Linked DNA regions of Homo sapiens: region 1 is linked to region 2. The links come from fine-mapping of genetic effects on gene expression. Tissue or cell type: whole blood. Region 2 holds a variant in brackets; the other region holds the start of a gene. All regions are shown on one strand. Distances are from middle to middle.

Evidence for each region. PIP is the estimated chance that this variant, and not a neighbour inherited with it, causes the effect.
Region 1: TBXAS1 starts here. The variant in region 2 is fine-mapped to the expression of TBXAS1 in whole blood (INTERVAL, PIP 0.97).

The regions. Positions count from the first base shown.
Region 1 is chr7:139,828,233-139,830,856 of GRCh38, forward strand. It overlaps TBXAS1 (thromboxane A synthase 1), which reads left to right and starts at 1,032. Exons shown (of 13, transcript NM_001061.7): 1 at 1,032-1,247. The coding sequence starts at 1,159. RefSeq lists an enhancer at 705-1,904.
Region 2 is chr7:139,960,665-139,963,420 of GRCh38, forward strand. TBXAS1 (thromboxane A synthase 1) reads left to right here. Exons shown (of 13, transcript NM_001061.7): 9 at 1,255-1,569. Among named protein-coding and RNA genes, the nearest start is that of PARP12, 100 kb to the right of the region's middle. The variant T/C (reference allele first, on the strand shown) is at 1,609.

The sequences.
Region 1 (2,624 bases), 130 kb before region 2:
TGAGCTCTGATTTTCTTTCTTCTACTTGTTCAATTCTATTGCTGAGACTTTCCAGAGCATTTCACATTTCTAAAAGTGTGTCCAAAGTTTCCTGAATTTTCAATTATTTTTTCTTTAAGCTATTTCATTGAATATTTCTCCCATTCAATATTGGGGGATTGTGTTGGGAGAGGAGGGTCTCCCTTTCCCACTTCCGCAAATGGGGCACTCACAGTATTTGGAGTGTCTTCTGGGTCCTGCAGGAGCAGTCTGGTTCCTTCAGAGAGTCTGTGGGTCCTTTTGGGATTGCTGGTTTTTTCTTGCAGTTGATCTGGAGCTAAAATTCACCATGGAAGCCTCCAGATGCTGCTCTGTCTGAAGCTGCAATCTAGTCCTGCCACCCAGCCACTATGATCCCCTCCATCTCTCTGTCCACTTTAGTCAGATAAGCTCAAAGCTAGAACAAAGGACCCATATATGAGCCTACGGATCTGCCTTCAAACACTTGAGAAGCCCTCCAACTCACCATGAGAACACTGACCCCAATCGGGATCTTTGCTTTGCTCCAACAGCCAGACACTCAGACAGGTCCTCAGACCCAGCAACTAATGGACTTGGTGGGATGGTTGTCCTCAAAGCAGCCAGCATTTTGATCAGGCTGGCGTCTGGTCCTGTATTTTTCTGGGATATTCAGAATCTCTTGACATGTATCTTCACTTAATTGTGAATTTAAAAAATTATAGATGGATGTAGATATAGATATAGATATAGACATAGAGATAGATATAGATAGACATTTTGGAGAAGAGTCTCTCTTTGAAGACTTCCTCTCAGAGTACAAGTCCGTGGTTACAACCATTTTGTTTCTCAGCAAACATGGGGAAGTTTGCTTTTCTTCTCTGAGGAAGTTAATATAAATGTTTATTGACAGTGCAGTCATCAAGGAATAAAGTTGCTGATTCATTCCTTTACACTGAAACCCTTTGTTGTGCCCTCCTCTTCCTTCCTCTTTATAGGGAGACACTCTGAGAAAGAGCACATTGTGGGGGCCCACTCCATGTGATGTTTGCTTGGTTGCCTGTTCCCTTTTCTACCTGCAGAGCACGGTTCCCATAAGGGCGGCGAGATCAGCCTCCTGTCTCATCTGGAAGACCACCACTCTGGGGTCTCAGAGGAATGATGGAAGCCTTGGGGTTTCTAAAATTGGAAGTGAATGGCCCCATGGTGACGGTGGCCCTGTCAGTGGCTCTCTTGGCCCTCCTGAAATGGTAAGTGCAGCCAGCCCTAGGGACTGTGACAGCGTCAGCCGTCTCACCCTGGAGCCTTGCTGGTGCCATGGCGGGGTATGTGGGAGTGTGTTTTTCTTCTTTTCTAATCTAGCGGGAGTGAGTATTAACACAGCTTCAGAATTAAAAGCAAACAGCCAGGTTAATCTTTTGCTAAAATGCATGAGATTGAAGTGTCAGGAAAGGCTGGTGATTCAGTGACTGAGAACGCTACACATAATTAAGTTTGAAAGAGATGGAAAAAGAAACAAATTGGAAAGGCATTAGGTTTGGGTAGAAGCATTTCCTTGAACCCCGTCATATCTCCTCACCTCATTTTTCTAAAATCCTCTGTCCTTGTTGGATTTACAGTGAATTCAGCCTCTTGGTTCATATTACATTCAAAACAAAACAAGACGTAGGAGCTGTTTGGCAAATGTGGGCCTCTTTGCAGGAAGTCATTGAGGGGGATTTCTGTAGGGTTAAGGACAAAGTGGTAGATCTAATTTCTCATAGTTGATAGAGGGAGATGGATTCTGATGAACATAGTGTGTGCAGCTCCTACAAAATTTGAGACCCTGAAAGGATCTCAAACTTGAACTCCGAGTTGCTCCCCTGTGGTTTTGTTAATTCAACAGCAAATTTTCCTAAGGCTGACTCTGGTGTCTGTAGGTCGAAGGCCTCATAATATGCTACATTTATGCATATTCGCCCTGTCAGTTAAACTTATTAGAGTTACCCATTCAATCAAAAGCACCTGGATTTAGATGGCTCTGGCTTTTGAGGGCAAAGTGAGTGGAAAAAATAATGGAGGACTGGAGTCCGAACAGAATTTTAATTTATGTTTTCAGTAGTAATAAAGCCTTCTCTAGATTAATAACTGGGAAAGCACTTTGAAAAGCATCAAGCATTATGCAAATGTGAGGTATTATTCTTTTGGAATTTGCATAGCTGAGAGTGGAATTCACGTTTGATGTTCTATGATGATGAAATTACTTCTTGGAAATTGGCTCTGAAACCCAGCCTCAGTCCCAGTGCTGTTTTTCTTTTTAACTGGTTTAATTTTTTTTTTGAACTTTTTTATCTCATTGTAGCTTACCTTGGATTGAAACTGGCCACATGTAAAACCAAGAGCAAATGGTAGCTCCTTCCCTACCCCCAGCCCCCAATAATCCATCTCAATGTGTTTTTATGCTCCGGGAAGCCCGAAGCACAGTGTCTGACATGCAGAAAGTGCTTAGTCGATGTCAGCCACTATAATTAACCATCTATCATCTATGTAACCTAAAAGAAAATAAGTCTTTAGTGGTTTAGGTTTATTTTTAATTTCTTACTAATGTGCTTATTCATATTAATCTCATCAATAGCTATGCTCTGACT
Region 2 (2,756 bases):
GAACCTGGGAGGTGGAGGTTGCAGTGAGCCAAGATCACACCATTGTACTCCAGCCTGGGTGACAGAGCAAAAAAAAAAAAAAAAGATGAAATCAGACGCTCATGTGTGTGGCATAGATTATTAATGCAATCGAAATTCAGAAGCCAGTGAACTGAGAAAATGCTGCAGCTAGCAGAGTACTTTGCATGAAATTCTAATATTTTTCTGTTGGTGATTCTGATACTCTCCTTTTGCCATTTTAGTCCCATAAACTTCAGAAAATGGAAATGTCTTGGTTGTCCTTCATGACATTAAAGAGCATTTCAAAGAAGGGATGTTCTAGGAATAAGCTTTGTTAACACAGAGGCGATATAGAAACACTCCTATTGTTACAATTAGTAATAGTGAAAATATAAAGAATATGCAAATGACTGATAAAGAAGGTAGGGGGAAATGGAAAAAAAGCTCTGACTACTTAAACGGGGGCAGGGGATTACTGAGAAATAGAGGGAACCGATGTGAAGATCTGATATGAAGGCTAGGGGATGAAGAAGGCAAAGCCTGGAGACTTTGAAGACAGGCGCCGCCAAACTAGTCCCCTCGCCTTGCCCTCACTTCTGTTAACTTCCTACTGTGTGAGAAAAACTGGTGGCTGCCCATCTAAGCCCTAAGCTGCACAGAAGTGAGCAGTACAGCACATGCTTGGTTTTAAATCTATCTATGTGATGTTGCCATTGTTTTATTGTTGGAAAACCAACCACCAACCAACAGTACAAAAATGTATAAAGTAAAAAATAAAAGCCCCCCTCCTGGTTTTCCCACCTCCTCCAGCTCATTATGAACTGTTGGGTGGGGACATTGCTAAAATCGTCTATGTGTAGACAGATATAGGTGATGATATATTTAGTACATTTGCTGTTTTTGCAGAAACGAGAGCCACAGTGCATACTGTTCCATGACCGGCTTTGTTTTTACTTAACAAAGTGGCTCAATGACTTTCACATCAGCCCAGATAGAATGGCCTCTGCCTTGCTCAGGGCAGCAGCCCAGGCTGCTCTTCACTGCCCCAGAACCTGCCTGACCAGTGCTATACTAAGGGACATTCAGGTGGCTTCCAGGTTCTCACCGTCCCAGATAACCCAGCAATGAGGAAGCTTGTTGCTACTGAGCTCTTCAAAAGCTATGCCCATGTATCTTCCTCCTTTGTTCTCCAGGAAGCCTCACTCTTCATGACTGTAAGGTCAAAATGTGCATTTTTCTCCTTTTGTTCCTTAGAGGCGGAGAGACTTCCTCCAAATGGTCCTGGATGCCCGACATTCTGCAAGTCCCATGGGCGTGCAAGACTTTGACATCGTCAGAGACGTTTTCTCCTCTACTGGGTGCAAGCCGAACCCTTCCCGGCAACACCAGCCCAGCCCTATGGCCAGGCCTTTGACTGTGGATGAGATTGTGGGCCAGGCCTTCATCTTCCTCATCGCTGGCTATGAAATCATCACCAACACACTTTCTTTTGCCACCTACCTACTGGCCACCAACCCTGACTGCCAAGAGAAGCTTCTGAGAGAGGTAGACGTTTTTAAGGAGAAACACGTGAGTACAAGTTGGATCCAGTTACCCATGGGATATCCA[T/C]AGGACAATTGATTTTGTGTTTGTGGGAGTGAAACTTATTTTTAATGACTTGCTAATATCACATTCTAAGCTTATAAGATGAAATAGGGTCATTGCTTGGCTTCTCCTGCTCTCCGGGTTAGCAAGCGAAATGAAATGTTGAGAACAATAACCACAACAAAAAGACAAATTGTGTGTGCACCTTCACTGTCTGGGGTAGTCCATGAAGCCAGGCCTGGCTCGAGGAAGCTGTGGAAGCCCAGGAAGGTGTCAGGCCCAAAGGGCAGGGATGGGGAAGGAGTCATGGCTTCCCAATATCTGACTTGGAGCTGCCACACGGAGGGAGGCAGGTGTGAGCCAGAAAGGAGAGCCAAGATAGAAGGCAGGAGTGGACAAAAGGACAGGCCAAGCTGAAGCTGGACTGAAGACTGGAAGCTGAGGAGGAGGCTCACAAATGGAATAAGGGAAGATGGGGCCCGTCAGCGCCCAGGCCAGCTTCAGGGCATTTTCTTCTAGATGAGGCCCCTCTTGATCGTTTATAGCAGATATAACGAGGGTGCTGAGCAAGGCTACTTTATCACCTCATTTTTTCTTCTAGATGCTTGTGTGTGTATAACTTTGACTCATGAGTTGTCAAAGAGATTCATTTTTAAAATCTGTACTTTAAAAGGAAGACCACCACAGTGGAATCCTTTCTGTTACATTCTGATATGATTGCTATTACATTCACCATTTTGAAAGGTGGTCTGTTCTGTTACTGGAACCATTAAAAAATGTTTCATACAATGAACTGAAAACCACTTCCCGGGAAATTCTACTTCTTTATTCTACTGGGGAAGTAAAGGCAAAGTCAATGTCTCTTCTTCACAGCAGTTTTTAAATATTTGAAAACTGCATTCACTGTGTTACTAATTAATTGTCTTAACTTTAGGCTCAACATGAGTTTATGGTCAACTTCAAGTTCTAAGTAGTTATGACAACTGCCAAGCTGGGCCTTTCCAAACCCTGCTTACACAATTGATTTATTGAGCCTAGACGGAAGAGTTTATATTTATCCTTATTACTGTTCAAGTCAGTCAAAATAATTTTGAATCTTGATTCTGCCATCTGTTATATTAGCAATTCCTCCAGCCTCGTGTCATCTGAGACTTATTAAGCATGTCTCCTAT